3 linked regions of the Homo sapiens genome follow. The protein of the gene in region 2 interacts with the protein of the main gene of each other region in a pairwise test. Each region holds a gene or a part of one and is shown on either strand. Other genes may lie near its edges.

Region 1 (7,110 bases), on a different chromosome or scaffold from region 2:
CCACAGGCAGGCACTCTTGATGTGGAAAATTGGGATACAGCAGGAGAAGGATTAAAACAGGCTCATCAAAAAGGTCTTAAAGTCGATTCTTCTGTTTTCTCCACTTGGAGTTTAGTTCGTACTGTACTTCTGCCATTATCTCATTATTATTCTGCAGGACAGCAAGCTGAATCTAAAAATCTGAAAGAATTTGTTGACCCACCCACAGCTCCAATTAAAAATAAAAAACAGGAGAGGGAGGATAAAAATTGGCCTATACTGCCTCCTTCAGTTGCAGAAACATCTGTACTGCCTCCTTCGGTGGCAGAAATAGAAACCCTAATACAAAGAATTTAATGCTCTGCTGCCATAGCTGGAGAGCCCTTAGGACATTGTGCTTTTCCTATTTCCATCAGGCCTGATCCAAAAAATCCACAGCAGGTTATTCATGAACACACCCCACTAGAGTTTAAGTTGTTGAAGGAATTAAAAGCAAGAGTGGTAAATGATGGCATACAGAGCCCATTCACCTTAGGATTGCTAGAATCTGTGTTTGGTGCTATGCGTTTTTTACCCTTTGATGTGAGACACTTGGCGCGAACTTGCTTGTCTGCTAGTGCATATCTGACATGGAATTTAAATTGGCAAGAAATGTGTGCAGACCAGGCTAAACAGAACCATGCTGCTGGACACGGAGACATTACAGAGGATATGCTGTTAGGTCATGGCCCTTATTCAGATGTAGAACGTCAAATGGCACTCCCAGATGCTGCTTATCAGCAGTGTACACAGGCCGCTAAATGCGCCTGGGCCACAATCCTGAAGAGGGAGTCCCTGTACAATCCTTTTTACATATCATGCAAGGGTTGCAGGAACCCTATGCACAATTTCTTGCAAGATTACATGAGGCACTGAAGCGTCAGATTCCTCATACTGTGGCTGCAGAAATGCTAACCTTAACTTTAGCTTTTGAGAATGCAAACGTGTACTGTAAACGTGCACTGGCACCAGTGAGGTGTACAAAAAACTTGGGAAATTTTCTCAGAGCTTGTCAGGATGTAGGAACTGAGATTCATCGATCTGCAAAGTTAGCATAAGCAATGGCTAATTTAGCAGTTGACAAATCTAAAAGGAGCCAAGGGTCAAACCCTAAAGTGGGAAAATGTTGTAATTGTGGAAAAACTGGACATCTAAAAAAGGAATGCCGCCAGATCTCAGGACAGAAAGGATATTACAATGCAGTTCACTCCCTAGCAGAAAAAACAGCAGGACTCTGTACTCGCCATAACAAAGGAAATCACTGGGCTACCCAGTGCTGCTCAAAATTTCATCAGAATGGCACCCCATTGGTAAATGAGATGGGGGCCTGCACCCGGGCCCCTCAAACAATGAGGGCATTCCCAATGCAGACCACAACCCCACTTCAGGGATGGGTTCCTGGAGGCACATTGATTCCCTCAACCCAGGAACACCAGGAAGTGCAGGATTAGATCTACCCACCAGAGAAAGAATCACATTAGTTAGGGGAGACAAACCTATTTGGGTATTTGGGGACCTTTACCGACAGGATACACAGGACTAATTTTAGGTAAAAGCTGCCTTAACTTGCAAGGCATCACTGTAGTCCTAGGAATGACTGACTCCGATTATGAAGGAGAAATTCAAGTAGTTTTAATGTCACAAAATCTTTGGGTTTTTGAACTGGGAGAATATATTGCTCAATTATTGCTTATTCCCTGTGAATTACACCCTTCCCCATGAAAAGAGAAATGAGGAAATAAAGGGTTTGGGAGCACAACTACATGGGAAATCTATCTTTCCCAACCCATAGCCTCTAATAGACCTACCTGTGTAGTACACATTAAAGGAAAGAAATTTTATGGGCTTATGGACATGGGAGCTGATGTGTCAGTCATATCTATAGGATGGGCACATCAAACATTACAACGCATGTTGAAAAAACAAAAAGGGGGTATAGGAGGCCAACTACCACCTCAATCAAAACTACATTTAGCCTTATTTACTTTAAATTTTCTGACTCCCGGTATGGATGGTAAGACTCCAGCAGAAAGACATTGGCAAGTGTTAGAGGAAAAAAGCAAAGTTTATCTGAAAGTGTTATGGAAATCCCCAGAAGGACAACAATGGAAAGGCCCGGTAGATTTACTGACCTGGGGAAGAGGGTATGCTTGTGTGTTTACAGGAGATGGGACAAGCCATGTGGGTGCCCTCAAGGTGCATGCGACCATGGAATGGGAGACTGGAGGAACCCAGGGTGGCCAACCATGGGCCCAGTCCCTCCTGTACGAGCTATGAGTCAGCTGAGCCTGAGTGCAAAGATGGAGAGAAGGCCAACCAGAGTCATGATGACATCAACCCCCATAACCTGGGGACAACTCAAGAAAACCACACAGGAAGCTGAGAAACTACTGGAGTGTCAGGGACAGGCAAAACCCCTGATTCCATGCTCTTGGCCATGTTAGCCATAATGTCCTGTGCACTACGTTTTCCCTGTGCACAGGCAAAAACATATTGGGCATATGTTCCCAATCCCCCAGCAGTATGGCCTATACTTTGGAGCTCACTCCTCCTGAGATTTATCACGATCAGGGAGAGTGGGCTCCAGGACCCCTAACTCCCCGTGACATAGAAAAGTTAGACTCTCAGAACAATGTCATTAATTATACCACTCCACTGGAAGGACTCCCTTTGTTTATCACCACAAAGACGTCGCTCAGCCATAGCTGTCTTGCAATTCAAGCTCAAACATGGTTGAGTCACTATGGAAAAATTATGTACTTATTAGGTCTTGGTTCTATTAATGTAACTGGTGTGCTAACCAATCATTCCCAGTCCAGTCACCCTAATTGTGCTGATTATACAGAATGGATTCCATTCAATAGTTCCTACCCCACTCTGTGGACCCAGTGTCTTGATCCACTGGCTAGTAAACAATATATGTCAACTGAAGACACTGTGGATTGGGAACCTAAAGGTCAATTAGATGGAAAAGGTGAAAGTCAGAAATCATGGCACAAACTTCACTGGCATTGGCGGCAAGCTTTTAATGCTTCTTCTTTATACAACAGCAGAATCCAATCCCAGTCTGCTGCTCAGATTGCTTGGCATGGAGCAGGCTTTAGCCCACCTCTTCCTCAGTTGCATTATCTGGGGAGGAAAGGACCAATTCAAGAAACTATATGGAAGGCAGCACTCCCATTTATGAATGGCAACATCTGGATTGGAACACTGTCTAATAATAGCAATAGTAAGCAACACAGTCTTAATGTTGCATTTGTAAAGAATATCACCACTCAGTTTACAGTTTGTGTTTTTAATCCTTATGCCTTTTTGGCAGCTAAGAAGAACCAGCTTCAGGTAAACAATACCCAATTGACCTGTAAATCTTGCCAGTTATATCACACTGCATTAATCATAGCACATTACGAACACATAATATCTCTACTTTGATAATGTTGGGTTGCATCCCTGGGCTATGGATTCTTGTTAATCTGTCTGAGCCTTGGGCTGCCACACCTGCTTTGCATTTTTGTAACACTTCTTCTAACTCAGCTTACTCACTGTGTCCATAGAGCCTTAGGCATAATTTTTGCTATTGTTTCCTTGGTCAAACTAATAACTTCTGTTGTGATATCTTCTGTAACTCTGCATAATTCTATTCAAACATCTCAGTAGGTGGAGAACTGGACACGCACAGCTGACCAAGCGAGGCTACTTCAGAATAAAATTAACACTGAGTTACAAACTGAAGTGGCAATGTTGAAATCCATGGTTCTGTGGTTAGGAGAACAGGTACAAAGCTTGCAGTTGCAGCAGCAATTGCGTCATCATTTTAATCACATTCATATTTGCGTAACTAACTCAGAATATAACCAAAGTGAGTATCCGTGGGACCTTGTGAAAGCCCATTTGCAAGGAGCTTTCACATCCAACATCACCTTTGATATTGGTGAATTACAAAACAAAATTATTGATTTAAATAGGCAAACTCAAGAATTTCAGCCTTCTTTAGAAGACTGGACCGAATTCCAGGAAGGCCTGGAGAGCCTCAACCCTTGGACCTATCTAAGGCACCACATTAACATCTTATATGTAGTTCTTGGAATAATGTTGTTTTGTCTCTGTCTTCGGTTTATAGTCTGTAAAATCGGATGGACCACCAATTGGAGAATGAGAGCCTCCCAGCCCAGCCTTACATTCTTTCAATTAATACATAAACAGAAAGGGGGATATGCAGGGAGCCAAAGGCCTGTGGGACGTGACCAACTCAGCATTCTGCTGGAGGCTATATGATCAAACAGCAAACTGTTTATCATGAATACAGGATGTGAGCAAACTCAGGACTGCTCCTGCCAACATAAGGTTTGCTGGAGGCAATCACTCCCTGGCACCGAGGTTATCTACTGCGACATCTAGAGAATGCAGTCTTGCAAGCCTACTCTGAACTGAGCAGCCGACCCCTTCTTCCACCCCCCCACCCTCCTATCTCTTTTGCCTAATAAATACGGAGGGCTGTGTAAAGCTCAGGGCCCTTGTCCACTAGAGGTAAGGTGCTCCCTGACCCCTTCTCCCAAATATACTCTTTTGTCTCCTGTCTTTATTCCCACGTTCACCCCCATTTGTGCAGTCCCATGGGTCCATGTGGGTTACGGCCCGCCACCGCGCCTGGCTGATTTTTGTATTTTTAGTAGAGATCGGATTTCAGCATCTTGGTCAGGCTGGCCTTCAACTCCGGATCTCATCACACACCCGCCTCAGCCTCCCCACATGCGGTTATTATAGTTGATATGTCTGAACCAAAATGATATGGGAAGCTTGAGAATAAAAGGTTGGAGACAATATGCCACAGAGAGAGTAACCAAAGATAATCTGTTATAACTATATCTCAGACAAAACTGACCAGAAATCCTAAAGAATTAACAGAGAGAAAGAGAAACAATGCTCACTGAAAAGAGGTGAAATTTGGCTCTTCATTCATAGAAATACACCATATGTATACCCCTAACAACAGTCTTGAAATGTATACAGCAAAAAATAGAACCAAAAACAAGAAATAGAAAATTCAGACTAAAGACTTTAACAGACCTTTCCTAGTAACTGACAGAACAGACCATCAACAAACAAAATAAAATTTATAAATGAGAAAGAAATGAATCTTTTATCTGAGGAATGTGACTCCCTTTAAATTATCAGGTCTAGAGAGGCATTAAAATGTGACAGCAGTCTTTCTGATAGGGGTTCCCCTGAAAAAAAGAAAAAAGAAAAAATTAAAAACTAAAAAAAAAATTTAATGTGACAATAGTCACATCTCATTTCCCCCTCAAGCTAAATAATTATCTCTTAAAGCCACTTGCTATGTAGGCTCTAGACTAACTCACACTGAGTAGCCATAAAATGCCATTCACTGGACATCCTAACTCATAAAACCCCATAGTTAACAATGTACAGCCAATTGTTAATTGATATTATTTCTGTAAACCAATGAGAATTCTTGCCAAACAACTTTATGTCAGCTCACGGTTTGTTCCCTTTTGACTTTAAAACCTGTTTCTAACAAAATCCTAACAGAGCACTTAACCAAGGCAACCTGAAAGTATTTTCCCAGGCAGCTGTCCTCATTTTGGCTCAAGTAAACTCTTTAAAATTGTATTTTGTGCAGTTTCCTCTTTTAGGCTGACATAAACGATATCATTTAGAAGAACTCGAATATATTTTTAAAATTAGATTTACTGAGATAAATTTTAACAGTTTTAAATAAATGCAAAGATGTACTATAAAGATGGGCTGGAAAACAAAGCATTTTAAAAATGTCAAGTCTCCCAAATCTACAGATTCAATGAAATCACAGTCACAATCCCAAACTGATACTGAAAAGTTTAAATAGCTATAAACTTTTTTTTAAAGTTTGAAAAAAAAGTTAGAAGACTTGCCATATCAGTTATGAGGACTTATAAAGCTACTTTAATTAGGACAGCACAATATTAGTACAATAACAGGCAAATAGGACAAAGGAACAGAATAAAATCCTTATAAGCAGAATTAAGCACATATAGAGACTCAATGGCAATGATAGCACTACAGGGAAGTAGATAAAAGCTGTCTTTTCAATAAATGGAACTAAGGGCGCCGTGGCTCACGCCTGTAATCCTAGCACTTTGGGAAGCTGAGGAAGGTGTGGGGGAAAGAGAGATCAGACTGTTACTGTGTCTATATAGAAAGAGGAAGACATAAGAAACTCCATTTTAATCTGTACAAAGAAAAGTTCCTCTGTCTTGAGATACTGTTAATCTGTAACCCTAGCCCCAACCCTGTGCTCAGAAACGTGTGCTGTGTTGGCTCAAGGTTTAATGGATTTAGGGCTGTGCAGGACGTGCTTTGTTAAAATGTGTTTGCAGGCAGTATGCTTGGTAAAAGTCATCACCATTCTCCAGTCTCAAGTACCCAGGGACACAATGCACTGCGGAAGGCCGCAGGGACCTCTGCCCAAGAAAGCCTGGGTATTGTCCAAGGTTTCCTCCCACTGATACAGCCTGAGATATGGTCTCGTGGGAAGGGAAAAACCTGACCATCTCCCAGCCCAACACTCGTAAAGGGTCTGTGCTGAGGAGGATTAGTGAAAGAGGAAGACCTCTTTACAGTTAAAATAAGAGAAAGCCATCTGTCTCCTGCTCCTCCCTGGGAATGGAATGTCCCGGTATAAAACCCAATCATACATTCTATTTACTAAGATAGGAGAAAACCACCTTATAACTAAAGGTGAGACATACTGGCGGCAATACTACTCTTTACTACACTAAGATGTCTGTGTAAAGTCAAACATAAATCTGGCCTACGTACACATCAAGGCACAGGACCTTTCCTTAAACTTATTTATAACACAGAGTCCTTTACTCACATGTTTTCCTACTGACCCTCTCCCCACCATTACCCTATAGTCCTGCCACACCCCCCTCACCAAGATGGTAAAAATAGTAATCAATAAATACTAACAAAACTCAGAGACCAGTGCCGGTGTGGGTCCCCCATATGCTGAACACCAGTCCCCTGGGCCCACTTTTCTTCCTCTGTACTTTCTCTCTGTGTCTGATTTCTTTTCTCAGTCTCTCATTT
Region 2 (7,110 bases):
GTTGATGGTCAGACTTGCCCTTCTAGAATGTAAGCTCCACAAGAGCACATATGTTTCTGTTTTGTTCCTATATCTCCAATTCCTAGAACAATGTAAGAAATATAGATTCTCAGTAATTATCACCGAATATATAAATCATTAAGTCAGATTTTCTCAATACTCTCGCTAAATGCCTAAGAGATGTTTCTGAGACACTACCCTGGTTCTCATCAAGAATTATTCATAGTAACAGATTAATTTAACATGGTATACAGAGTTAAAGTAATGCAATTTAAATATGTATCATTAGTTCCCTCTCTCACACTATACACTTTTGTAATAAAAATCCTTGCTATTAAGGCTGATTAGTTTGATTAGTTTTCTCTGCTCTTCACATTTCACTGTGAGAGGGAGGCACTTCTATTCGCCCAAAAGGAAAATATATAGAATTCTTTCAGCTTCTCTCAATTCTTCTAAGTGTTCATTTTTTTCAGAGTGGTTAGTCTATAAGTTTACATATGTACTAGACCTAAATAGGATATTAATATACTACTATACATACTTTCAGTTGTAGAGAAGGATGTATCTAGTGTTAACTCATCCAGAGGAATCACAAGTTGACCTCCTGCCTCCCACTTCTTGCGATCAGATGAAACTGATTTTTCTTTTTCATGCTCTTTGGCATCTTCATGAACATTTATCTCAAAAGTATCAGAGAGATTCTGCTTTCCTTTTTCATCTTCTTGAGCTTTAAGATTTTCATTTAATCTACGAAGTATTTCTCGCTTACTCTGAAAGTCACGACATTATATATTTTAATATGTATATCATTAAGTAAAATGATTGATAAACTTTGAAAATTTTACTTACTGAAATAGCATTGTTGGTCTTTTGCATCTCTTCTGAAGTTTCCCGGGTATCAGTTAAACTACTGTCCTTTAAATGCAGATAGATACAGAGGAAGAGATAATTTTATTTTTTTAAATCTACCTTTAAAAATATTACATCCTCGTTACTTTTTGGTTTTCATTAATTTGTTCCTTGTAAATTTTTTATTCCTATAAAATGTTAACAAAGCTTCCTTCATTATCAGCAATGACTAACCTTTAAATATTATTAATTAGACAACATAGACAGGGGCCAATTCTCAATTATTTGTCATATTTTTAGATTACTGCTCACATAATTAACTATATCCTCTTCCTCTTTGGTACCTGATTTTTTGGTAATTTAAGTCAGAAAATTAGAGGAAAAAGTAGAAATTAGAGGAAAAAGTAGAAATTAGAGGAAAATTCATATACTCTCTTAATTATAACTAGAAAAAGTTTTGATAGATGAAGTAATTCAAAATAGGCTGTGTTATTCTAAAACTGTCTTTATGTTTCATGTATATATATCCTTGTTAAGCCATAGTACTAAATGTAATTGAGAAGTGGCTTTCCTCCCTAAACAAAGAGTGTAACAAAAATTAGTTCTGAGTCATTTGTACTACAAATGACATAAATGTTATCTCCTAATTAGCATTGTCAAAGCAATCCAGACTATCTAAAATTAAAAAACATACGAAAAGAAGAAATTAGCAGTTACGAAAGCTATGAAAGCAAAGGCATGTAGAAGATTCAAAGAACAATTTTCTAAGTTTTAAGTAAGTGACATTTACCAACACAACACAGAAAGAAAACCGTTCAGTTATATGGATTACCTCGAATTTTGTAATACTTAAAAAAAATTAAAAATTTGGTGGTCAGTTTCAAAGTAATATATGAAGCAATGAGACAAAGAACATTTTACCCAGTAAAGTAGTCAGGAATTAGCAGTCCTACAACCAGAGAGATGAACAGCTATTGAGATGTGAGACTGGGTACCAAGGAGGGACCACACAGTGGTATCTAAAGTTGGAGTAACAACGTGGCACACGCAAAGTCGTTATCAGAAAGAAAAAGTGACTAAGCCTACTTGAAGAACAATAGTTTCTTACATGAAGTTCTTGAGAATGATCAAGAAACTTATATTTTCCTACTGAGTTTTATTTTCAAAATCAACCCAAAGGCTATAAAAAAAAACAGCTAGTGTACCAATTTTGTCTGCAAATATTTACTGAAACTAAACAAATAAAAAGCACAGACATCCATTACCAGGAAAGGGGAAAATGAAGTTATTATGTTATCTGATTCAGTAGACTTTTCTCCTCCTGTCTGTTGAATTCTAGGCCGCAGCTCCACACTATGAGCCCACTTCTCTTAACCCCTGAACAGTCTTCACACTTCAGACAGATACCTGAAATATACTTCTAAGTTTAAGCTTTTTATTTGTCTATGTTTCTTTGTTTTACTATCTGTAGGGCATGACAGAGATTCAGAAGTAGAAGGTAAAAGGAATAACTGATGAATTAACTAGTTCTACTGAGTCCTCTAACATTTGCCATGTCACAAAATTTGAATAAATGTAAATATGTGTTGGACCTAATACCTAGAGCTACTTTAGCACCAAAGAGACATTATTCTTTTTAAAGTGAACATTTGTTAATCATGAGGGTTGGGTAGAAAAATGTTTATAGTATTATTTTCAGTACATTTCTCTGTATATTTTATTTTTTCAATATTCTTTTAAAGTAATATAAGAGTTATTGTGATATATTTTCATCTACCACGTGGTCCTAGATATAAAACTTATAAACAATGAGGCTCCAGTATTCTGAGTAAACTAAAATCCCTTAAAAAGTAATTTTTTTCCTTAGAAAAACCTGAAAGGGACATTAGGGATTAATGTGATTTCATTAAATTTAATTTCCTTTTAAATAATCTTTTGACTTTGAGGAGTTCTGAATCTTAGGAAACTTACCACGCCAACTTCTTTCAAAGCTGAAGTTACAGAAATAACAGATCTCATCTGTTGCTTTGATGGAGAGCCACCTGTTTCATGCTGTCCCAAAGGTGGAGAAACATCAGAACTCTTAACTCCTTTAGCCACCAACTATAAAAAAGGATTTTATTAAATACATTAGGGATTTTATATTTGTATGAAGAAATAAAATGGTACCTACCAGATCACTATTTATCCACTCTATCCACAAGTAGTTTTTTTCATTCCTGAATTATCTGTTGAGCAAGGCATTATGATGCTACATGCTGGGGATACAGCAGTGACTAGAGAAAAAAATCTCTGGTCTCAGATGTACACATAGTCATGTCACATAGTCCTAAATAACCCGCTTTCATTGCATTATCAATGTTTCATGAAATGATCCTGAAAAACTGTCTTTTAAAGATTCAAGTGTAAGATTTTGTTAATCTTACACTTCTAAAAGAAATGCTTTTGTAATTCCTGCAGGTTTGGGTACAATCTTCTCAAAGTTCAAATATCAATTACTCAACATAAGAGCCCTCATAAAAATGCCAACATAAATGAGAATGGAAGGAGAAACAGATCCAGGTAATAAGATTTACTTCACTGAAAACATCATGTTGTATTAACATATGTGCTTGTTTTTATGTTGCCATTTAAACTCTAAACAAAGTAAGATTATGAAACCTGAATTAATACAAGGAAATGACATTTATGGGTATGACAATAGTAACACAGCAGGAAGTTTACTCCCTACTCCCTATTCCTAGTCTTCCTCAATCTAGGAAACAAGACTTTCTGGGGAGTATACATTTCAAACACAATATTTATTGAGTATCTTCTAAAAATACAGTAATAATACAATCTTAATATTTAGGCTTCTAGACCTTCACTTTACAACAATACAGGCATACCTCTGAGATATTACGCACTTGGTTCCAGACCACTGCAATAACGGTAATATTGCAATAAAGTGAGTCACACAAATTCTGGGGTTTCTCAGAGCATACAAAATTTATGTTTACACGATTCTGTAGCCTATTAAGTGTGCAACAGCATTATGTCTAAAAAACAATGTACACACCTTAATAAACACCTCATTCCTAAAAAAAAAAAAAAAAAAAAGCTAATGATTCTTCTGAGCCTTCAATGAATTGTAATTATTTTGCTGGTGGAGGGTCTTGCCTTGATACTGATGGCTACTGACTGATCAGGGTGGTGACTCCTGGATGTTGGGGTGGCTATGACAATTTCTTAAAATAAGACAAAAATGAAGTTTGCTGCATCCATTGACTCTTTCATGAAAATATTCTTTTGATTTTGTAAAAATATTTTTAAAATTCTTTATTATTTAAATAAAGATGAGGTCCACTATATTGCCTAGGCTGGTCTTGAACTTCTGGCTTCAATGACTGTCCTGACTCAGTCTCCCAAAGTGCTGGGATTACAAGCGTAAGCCACTGTGCCCAGCCCATGAAAATATTTATCTGCAGCATGTGATGCTGTTGCATTTTACCCACAGTAGAACTTCTTTCAAAACTGGAGTCAGTCATCTCAAACCCTGCTGTTGCTTTATCGACTAAGTTTACAAAATATTCTAAATCCCTTATCATTTCAACAATGTTCAAAACAGCTTCACCTTCGTAGACTCCACCTCAAGAAACCACTTTATTTGCTCCTCCATAAGAAGCAATTCCTCATCCATTCAAGTTTATCATGAGATTGTAGCAATTCAGTCATATCTTCAGGCTCCCCTTGCCATTCTACTTCTCTTGCTATTTCTACCACATCTACACTGACTTCCTCCACTGAAATCTTGAAGAATGGAGTCAACTTCTTCCAAACTCCTGTTAATGTTGACATTAACATTAACATGACATTAACTCCATGAATCAAAAAAGTTCTGAATGGCATCTAGAATGATGAATGATGAATACTTTTTAGAAGGCTTTCAATTTACTTTGCCCAGATCCATTAGAGGAACCATTATCTATGGCTACAGCCTTAAAAAAATGTATTTCTTAAATAAGAAGACCTGAAAGTCAAAATGACTTCTTGATACATTGGCTGCAGAATGGATGTCGTGTTAGCAGGCATGAAAACAACATGAATCTCTTTGTATAATACATCTCCATCAGAGCTCTTGGGTAACTAGGTGCCTTGTCAATGAGTAGTAATATTTGGAAATAATTTTTTTTTTCTAACCAGTAGGTCTCAACAGTGGGCTTAAAATATTTACAGCAAACCGTGCTGTTAACAGATGTGCAGTCATCCAGGCTTTATTGTTCCATTTATAGAACACAAATAGAATAGATTTAGCATAATTCTTAAGGGTCCTAGGAGTTTCAGAATGGCAAATGAGCACTGGCTTCAACTTAAAGTCACCAGCTGCATTAGCTCCCAACAAGAGAGTCAGCCAGTCTTTTGAAGCTTTGAAGCCAGCTATTGACTTCTCTTTAGCTTTGAAGCCAGGTATTGACTTCTCTTTAGTTATGAGAGTCCTAGATGGCATCTTCTTCCAATAGAAGGCTGTTTTATCTACACTGAAAATCTGTTGTTTAGTATTACCACCTTTATCAATGATCTTAGCTATATCTCCTGGATAATGTACTGCAGTTTCTCCATCAGCACTTACTGCTTTACCTTGCACTTTCATGTTATGGAGGTGGCTTCTTTCCTTAAACCTTATGAACCAATCTCTGCTAGCCAACAATTTTTCTTCTGTAGCTTCCTTATCTCTCCTAGTCTTCACGGAATTGAGGAGAGTTAGGGCCTTGCTCTGGATTAGGCTTTGGCCAAAGAGAATGTTGCGGCTGGTTTGATCTTCTATCTAGACCACTAAAGCTTTCTCCATATCAGCAAGAAGGCTGTTTTGCTTTCTTTCTTTCTTTTTTTTCTAAGAGATGGGGTCTTGCTCTGTCACCCAGGCTGGAGTGCAGATCCAGGCACAATAATAGCTCACTGCAACCTTGAAATCCTAGGCTCAAATGATCATTCTGCCTTAGCTTCTCAATGTGGTTGGGACTATAGGTGTGTGCCACCACATCCAGCTAATTTTTCTTTCTTTCTTTCTTTCTTTTTTTTTTTTTAGAGACAGGTTCTCACTATGTCATCCATGCTAGTCTCAAACTTCTGGCCTCAAGCAATTCTCGTGCCTCAGTCTCCCGAGTTGCTGAGACTACAGGCACCTGGCTGTTTCGCTTTCTTATCATGTGTGTTCACTGGAGTAGAACTTTTTTTTTTTCTGAGATGGAGTCTTGTACTGTCGCCCAGGCTGGAGTGCAATGGGGTGCAATGGCTCAGTGAAACCTCCGCCTCCCTCCTGGATTTACATGATTCTCCTGCCTCAGCCTCCTGAGTAGCTGGGATTACAGGCACACACCACCACGCTCAGCTAATTTTTTGTATTTTTAGTAGAGATGGGGTTCACTATGTTAGCCAGGCTGGTCTCAAACTCCTGATCTCATGATCCACCTGCCTCGGCCTCCCAACATGCTGGGATTACAGGCGTGAGCCACTGCACCTGGTCTGGGGTAGCACTTTTAATTTCCTTCAGGAACTTTTCCTTTGCATTCACAACTTGGATAACTGGCGCAAGAGGCTTAATTCTGTGCCTATCTCAGCTTTCAATATGCCTTCATCACCAAGCTTAATCTTGATTTCAGGTGACAGACATGCAACTCTTTTACTTGAATACTTAAGAGGCCACTGTAAGTCATTAAGTGGCCTAATTTCAATATTATTTTGTCTTAGGGAATAAGATCTGAGGAGTGAGACAGGGGAACTACCAGTCAGTGGAGCAATTAGAACACACACATTCATCAATTAAATTTCCCATCTTATATGGGTGAAGTCTGTGGTGCCTCAGAACAATTACAACAGTAATATCAAAGATATAATGACAATAATGAAAAAGTTTGAAATATGGCAAGAATTACAAAAATGTGACACAAAGACACAAAATGAGCAAAAGCTGTTGGGAAAATGACACTGATAGACTTGCTTGATGCAGGGTTGCCACAAACCTTCAATTTGTAAAAAATGCAGTATTTATGAAGCACAATAAAACAAAGTATGCCTGTATTTATTTTGTTCAAAAAAGGATGGAAACATTGCTTTAGTCCCATAGTTCAGTATTATTGAAAAAGTATACTGATATTTAAGATGTTACTACAAATAGGCCGGGCGCAGTGGCTCACACCTGTAATCCCAGCACTTTGGGAGGCCAAGGCGGGTGGATCACAAGGTCATGAGTTTGAGACCAGTCTGGCCATCATGGTGAAACCC
Region 3 (7,445 bases), on a different chromosome or scaffold from region 2:
CAGGCACCCCACTCTGGTTTCTGGCTTTAAAGGAAATGTTTATTTTAAATTTGACTGTTGCTATGATGTTAAGTAAAAGTTTTCTGTAGATACTCTATCAGGTTAAGGACACTTTTTCCTAACACTAGTTCCCTAAGTGCTTCTTATCATTATTAGAAGCTGAATTTAGTTGAATGCTTTTTCTGCATCATTGTTAGGAAAATACATCTTTTATAATCTGTGAATGCAAAAAAAACTATACACATTTTTCTAATATTGATAAAATCTTGCATTCTTAGAATAAGGCCAGTAACCCAGGACTTTTCACTTGGAGAGTCAGAAGAAGCTAGATGATACCAGAATAGAAACTGTCTACTTTAAACCGTATAGTGCCAGTCCTACTTGTTTACCTCAAAACCCTGCCTCCTCCATGACATCACTGCTGACTCATCCATGCCTTCTCTGAGCTTTTAGAGTATGTACCATTGATGATGTTCATTTGACACTTTGCATGTGCTGTTCTATACATGACCTATCTACCAACTAGAATATAAGCCCCTCAAAAAACAGCAACAAATAAGCACACAATAAATCCTTGCTTAAAATGCTTAAAATATCCTTGTGGATGAGATGGTGAAACATGAGTTGGGTAATAATACAGCATTCTCAGAAAATGAGACTTGTGGACATATGAGTTTTCTGGAGAACTGCTGTTTTAATCTCCTAACACTGAAACTTTAAAATCATTCTAAATTGTACTTCCCTGCTTTGTTAACCGAGTATTCTGGCCATGCTTAATACACTTCTTGATTTTAACTTTTTCTTGTTAAGGACAGTCAATTATGAGGAATATCAGTTATGGTGTTGTGGTAGAGATGTAGCTGTAGATACACAATGTGTGGGATGCAAAACCTCAGCTGTGACCCTGAACAAGGCTTTAACTGGAAAAAGAAAAAAAAAAAAAGGCAGGCATTCTTCCCCTTTGGCATTGACCTCTAACTCTCAGCAGTGATTTATACTTTTCTTCCTCTGCTCTCCTACCCTTCTCTGGCTTCTTTTACCCCAGAGTTACACAATGCAGAGCTGTAAGACTGATACATTTTTAGCAGTGGATACTGTGAAAAGTTGCCATTTCTCCAGATTATGACTTTCTAGCTTGTTTTTCCACTATGTACCATCTTTTTCTCTAGATCTCATTACTGCTTCTAATCTCTAGAGAGGACACAGCATAGTGTAGCAAAGAGAACCTTCTGGAGCCAGGGTACCTGGATTCAAATCCCAGTTTGGCACTTATTGAAAGCCCTAACAACAAATTATTTAACCTCAGTATTCCTCAGTTTCCTCTCCCATACCACGAGAATATATACCAACTTCACATGATTGTTATGAGAATTAATGAGTTAATATTTACAAAGTGCTTAGAACCTGGCCTACCACATAGTAAGCATTACATAGGTGTTATTTAAAAAATGGATAAAATACTATCAACTTGAACTCCATCACTCTCTTATCTCTCTGCCTCTTAAAACTGCTCCAGTGTTTCTCGTTTTGGTTGTGTTGTGCTAGTGGAGATAGGCGAGGAGCGGAGGGTCTGACATTACTGAGGGATCCCAGTGCCCCTTCCCACTGGTCAGAGCCTCAATGAGACACAGGAAAAGGGAAGGAGAGTGTCAGATATATTCATCACTGCTCCGTTAGCCATGCGAAGGTGAAGAAAATAGGGATGTTTATTTAACCAGCATAACAGGAATCCAGGGACATGTGTAACTGCTGTTTTCAAATATGCGCAGGGCTGGGCAGGAGAAGAGATAATAGCATTTAGAATTCTATGCAACAGCTACAGGCTCCCCTTCACTGAACATGTTTAAGCAGGGTACTGGTGGCCAGGTGTCAAGGATGCTAAAGAAAGAATTTTTAGTCAGATAATCTTTAAGATTTCTTCTACCTCTAAAATCTTGGTAATCCTAGTATGAGTCACGAAGTGGTTACAACCTAGATGTGAGTCACACATCGCCAACGCGCTCCCGAAGGCACAGAATTCACTCCCCACAGTGCTTGGCATCTTACCACAGACCTAAGTGAGGAATTCTAGCCCTGAAGCTGCATATAACCCAGCTCAGAGAAACAAAAACTTTCCTAAAACTCAGGGCGTCGGTTAGCTGATTGGCAAATACAGTAACGCACACATCCCAAACGGGACTTGGCAAAACGGTGTGCATCTGGATTAACTGTCATACAGTCTCCACGTCACTCTTCCACGAGGCCGGACAGAAGCGGGCAGAAGTGAGCAGCAGCAGGTTCAGGGGAAGGGGTAGGGTGGCCGGGATGAATGGGAGGCCAGCGAACTGACCTACGGCGGGGAGGGACAAAGGATCAGGGAGCGCACGCTGGGCGGGGAGGCCGGGAGGAATACCCCAGGCGGAGGAGCCGGGCTCGGGACCAGGCTGCGAACTGGTGACAAAGTCGGTTATCGTGGAGGGCCCTAAGTACCAGCGAGGGGCCCCGCGGGGGTCCTCTCTGCCTCGGGAGCTGGGCTCAACCACTCGCCCCGCGGAGGGGGCATCGCCCGGCCGGGGGCACCCGGGAGCCGCAGACCCGAGGCAGGTACTGGGGGCAAAGGCCCAGGCCGGCACCCCCGCCCCGCAGCCTCCCCTGCTGCCGAGTCCACTCAACCCTGCCGCCGGAGTTTGGATTATCCAGTCTCTCGCCGCCCGGGCCGAGGCCCGTCCCGGAGCCCCACACAGGCGGTCCGACAAGAACGCCGCAGTGCCGGCGCGGAAAGTGGGGCAGCGGCTGCCTCCCGTCCGGTCGTGCGAGCGGCGGCCGCCATCGCGGGCCGCGGCGGGAAGGAGAAGAGGGGCCGCGCCAGGCGCCACTTTACCTGAGAAACCAGCGGGAGTAGCGTCTGCTCCACCGAGCGAGTTTTGATCTCCAGTCCCGAGTCGAGGGCGAAGCCCGAAGAGCCGGAGCCGTAGACTGCTCCGGCGCCGCCAACGCCGGCGGGTCCGGGAGAGGCGGCCATGGCCCTCGGTCTATCCCGCAGCCGGGACTCCGCGCCGCGGCGAGCCTGCCGCCAGTCAGCCCACCCGCCCGAGGCGGCGGCGACAGGACACTCGCGCCAACCGAGACCCCGCCCCCAGGGGCCCGCCCCCCCAGGGCTCCGCCGCCAACCCTGCGTCCCCGACGCCCGTCACCGTATGTCCCCGCCCACCCCCGGCCTCTGCCCCGCCCGCGCAGTCCAGCCTGGTGTGGGCTCCCTGCAACCCCACCCCCTAAGCCGGGTCCCGCCCCCACATGGCCCCGCCCTTATCTCTTCTCAGACCCCTTCCATGGGTTCCAGGCACCTTCTCGCCAGGGTGGCGAGGAGAAACAAAACACATCTGTCACACAGCCACATGGCCTCCTCTTACTTGGACAGACAAGCGTCCCCAGCAAAGCTTCCCGTCCTCTCGATAGGTGACTCGTCCTAAATCAGCTCTGAATTCCCGCAAAGACTTCTGGAAGCTGTGCTGGGGTTGAAACTGGTAGACCAAAACCAGAATCAAGTCTGTTGGGAGGGGCCTTTCCCCTGGGACGGGAATTCCAGTGGTAATGTCTTCCTGGGGCTTCTCCGGAAGGTCCAATTTCCACTCCACCCTGCTCATTCTTTCACCATGTATTTCTCACAAACACTTTGAGCTGGATTGAAGGGGAAACATTTGATAATGCAATCATTAATGGAGTATCTGGGTATTCGGCAGGAAGTCAGTATATCTTTCACACTACTGTTTAGACTTATTCAAAAGAAATTTAAAAGAAACATGAAAAAGCCTCATCTACTGTTCAACACTACTTCTTAAAACTATTTTTCGAAGTTTTTTCCTAGTGCCAGGCACAGAGCAGTTTCTTCATAACTGTTCATTGCATGAAAACACCAAGTGTGTATTTCTGACAACTCACTTGAGGGGAAGGGTAAGAATCAGTTCTGTAAGCACAACTCTGAGCTCGCACAGAGCCCCACGATGGGGGCGGGGAGCTGAAGACTCCTATTCTAAGGTCTCCAGGAGCAAGGCCAAAAGGAGGTTGTCAGCAGTATGCACGCCGTGAAGGAATTCCAGACTTAAGCAACAGACTGAGAAGCATGAAAAAATGTTTTGTCAACTACCATATCTGCCAGTGAGAACCTGTCAGAGTAAAAAAGAATCTGAGGCTGGCCAGTCCACCCGGACACCTTGGCCTGGATCATTTCTTCTTCCATAACACCAGATTGATGAGCTGGGTACATCAACCTGAGGCATAAGAAAGCTCTTTCCCAAGCACCGTTGAAAGGCGCTTCACAGTGCTTCAACCTGTAGCTTCAGCTTCATCAATCTACCAGTGCTGCACAGCTGTCTTTGGTATTGAAGATAGCCAAGCTTCAGCTTCTTTTTCTTCATTCAAAAAGGACAGGTCCTCAATCCAACTTTTTCTTCCAATTCTTCTCAGCCAACCATCTCACCACTTCCTTACCTATCACAAGGCCACCTTCCCCTGTGCACTGAGGGCCCTTGACCTCTTTAAGGCGCCCAGTGTCCACTTCCTGGACACACCTTCCCTTACGAAGTTGACAGTATCTCCTAAGAATTCAGTGTACACAATGGTGCCGGAGGAAATGGCATAACAGAAGGCCTAAGAGACGGATGGATTCATGAAACTTTGGCTTCACAAAAGATCAAGTTTTTCAACACACAGGAGATTAAGTTTACCACATGATTCATTCAACACTAGTAATTTTATTTCAAAATATAAATATTTCACATTAATAAAGAAGTTACATCAGTAGGTTGTCAAAGCAAGTTAGCTAAGAAACAGCATTTGTGTGAGAACAGAGGGTATTTATTGTATTCGAATATTCTTTTTTACTTTTGAATTGCCTCCTTCACCTGAGAACCCAGGGATGATACATTTTCAAAGAGTTATGTAAGCAATTACAACTCTATATCAAATCTTAGTTCAAAATCAAATTGTACTGGAAATACACTTCAGTTACCTAAATAAGTGGCACTGCAAAGGGCAAAGAAGGGTTTTCTTTGGGATGGCTACAATGAGAGTTACATCTGCTGGGTCTCTGCAATAAAAAATAAATGATATTTGATAATAAGCCAAAATTATCAGGATTTGCTTCCATACTTTTCACTGTAAAATAAAAAGCTAGCAAAAAGCTAGTAAGAAACCAGATGTCTAGTAAAGAACTCTGGACTTGGAGTCAGAAGTTCTGCAACTAAATTCTGGCTCCATCATTTTGTGGTATAAACTTAGGGGAATATCACCAAAAACTTTTCAGAGCCTCCAGAGCCCCCCCATCTGTACAATAAGGATAATATTGTCTGTCTCACAGGGCTGTTACAAAAGGTGTCTGAAAACTATAAAGTGCCATACAAAAGCATTATTAAAATGTAATATCAATATATCACCACTGTATTTGCACATTAGTTGATCCTTGAAAAACCTGCAAAATTAAACACAATACTGATTTTACACACCACAGGTGGAAAAGAATCTCTATACCTTAAGTATAGCTCTAAACAGCAAATATACTTGCTTTCTGGACTTCAAGATTTATTACACACTACATGGTACCACAGTAATAGATCTGCCATTCAGTATTTCCATTAGGGATGTCTTCTCAAAGAGTTGTAAACTTGATCAAGGGCCATGTTTCTCAAAGGACCCTGTAGTCCTTTGAGATGCTCTGAGGAATAAAGAAGGGGAGTGCAGTCTAAGGTCAAACAGTGTTTGTCCCCTTTTATAAATTCACAATGTGTAATAGCATGTTCAAAACTCTTAGAAGTCCTACAGTAAGGAAACAAACTCAGCATTCCTTCATTTTAATTGACCATGCAATCCCCCACCCCCAACACACACACACTTTTTTTCTTACATCTATTAACATCTCTTGGAACTACTGCTATATGGAACACATTTTGCCAAAAGCTGCTCAACCATGAAGAAAAGGAAAGAGAAGTAGAACAACGGACTGACAGAAAAAAAAGAACTCTATTCTATTCTGAATTCTGTTACTAACTGGCTGTATGTGTATGTCAGACAAGCCACTTAAACCTATGAATTTGGGTCTTTCTCTAGAAAGTGACAGGACCACCTAATTTTAGAAGTCCCATTCTAGCACAGAATTTCTGACTCTAGTAGACAGAACAACTTGATTTATAATTCTCTTAAACTATCAAAAATAACCAAACAGTGGCTGCAGACAGCATGTGTGTTTTTTTTTTTTTTTTTTTTTGCAGGTTCCCAATAATCGGTAAGTTAATAAAATGAATATATTTTGATGGCAGAATGTTGAAAGACAAGAAACTAATAAAAAGTACTTGTTTTTAGCTGGAACTAGCATTTGGAAGTAATGCTAGCCAGAGGCTATTTCCACTGTGAAATGCACACTCAAAGTCCTATTGTAATATTATTTTAAGGGTCTTAGGAGGCCCCTCAGAGGAGACTGCAAGGTCAGGGCTAGAGTATGAGAAGTCCTAAGGGTTTTTGTATTTTGTTTTTTTTTCCTATAAACCCTGAGGTTGAAAGCTCTGGATAGCTCACCTAAATTACTTTCCTCTAATCTAACCCCTCACAGCCTGAATTTCTGAGTATTGCTTGACCAGTAGTGACACATTCCTGAGGCACTAATATAACCCAAATGGAAACTACAGGTCCTAGGAAATCCAGATAGGTCACAATGGGTTCATGTGAAGATCAAGGTGAGCCAGAAGATCTCATCTGCAAGCCATTTAGCAGCCCTTTAACTGTAAAAAGCAGTTCCACTTTCAAAGGCTACAGAGTTTGTTTACATACAAGGTCTCCATGTAACATGTTGGATTTCTTCCCACTGTCATGGGCCAACCCACACTAGACTCAGAAGTCAAGGGAAAGCTCTGCCAGCTAAACACTTCTTATCAAAGAGGGTGTGAAGAAACCTTGCAATTTTAACAATAACTAAGACCAGCATGTAAGGTGGTCTTACAGAGATCACTTGCAGGAACAGATATTGATAGGAACTTCAGAACTCAAACAGCACTCACATAACATGGAATTTATGCTGAAAATCCCATGCCTTCTCTCTCAGAAAAGAGAGGAGCATACCTGTGTGGAGAGCTTGTATTTTCTCCCCTCCCATCCATTCGGTTTACAACTGAATAGCGAATGTGAACTTGAAACTAATCTTTAATAAATCTATAAAATGCAAGATATTATGACCAAGTTCTGTACTCCGTTTTTACTGAAATGACTTCTACTTCATCAACGTACGGTCTGTTCCTGAAGAAACTTCCTCTTTCTGGGTCAAATTCTGACTGAGAATGTAAAGGTAGGTTATCTTTGAGACTTGAGCTTAAAACTCCTACCTTTTCATACCACTTGATCTCTGTTGCCCTGTGAAAATTCTGTAAACCTTCCTCATTGCATCTGAGGAATCATGCTGGAATGCTTCTTTCTGGCTCGGA

What was found.
Region 1: the proteins of NEK1 (region 2) and ZNF350 interact in a two-hybrid assay, tested with the Homo sapiens proteins (one study listed by BioGRID and IntAct).
Region 3: the proteins of NEK1 (region 2) and CTNNAL1 interact in a two-hybrid assay, tested with the Homo sapiens proteins (one study listed by BioGRID and IntAct).

Annotation. Positions count from the first base shown.
Region 1 is NC_000019.10:51,976,789-51,983,898, forward strand, and holds part of ZNF350 (zinc finger protein 350), read right to left. Parts: exon of another isoform or gene 6,991-7,110; intron 5,244-6,990; exon of another isoform or gene 4,947-5,243; intron 4,580-4,946; exon of another isoform or gene 4,139-4,579; intron 1-4,138. UniProt on the Homo sapiens protein: Transcriptional repressor. Binds to a specific sequence, 5'-GGGxxxCAGxxxTTT-3', within GADD45 intron 3.
Region 2 is NC_000004.12:169,476,583-169,483,692, forward strand, and holds part of NEK1 (serine/threonine-protein kinase Nek1), read right to left. Parts: intron 2,953-7,110; coding exon 2,821-2,952; intron 1,799-2,820; coding exon of another isoform or gene 1,790-1,798; exon of another isoform or gene 942-1,789; intron 916-941; coding exon 850-915; intron 771-849; coding exon 542-770; intron 1-541. UniProt on the Homo sapiens protein: Phosphorylates serines and threonines, but also appears to possess tyrosine kinase activity. Involved in DNA damage checkpoint control and for proper DNA damage repair.
Region 3 is NC_000009.12:109,010,442-109,017,886, forward strand, and holds the start of CTNNAL1 (alpha-catulin), read right to left. Parts: upstream 3,059-7,445; 5' UTR 3,002-3,058; coding exon 2,861-3,001; intron 1-2,860. UniProt on the Homo sapiens protein: May modulate the Rho pathway signaling by providing a scaffold for the Lbc Rho guanine nucleotide exchange factor (ARHGEF1).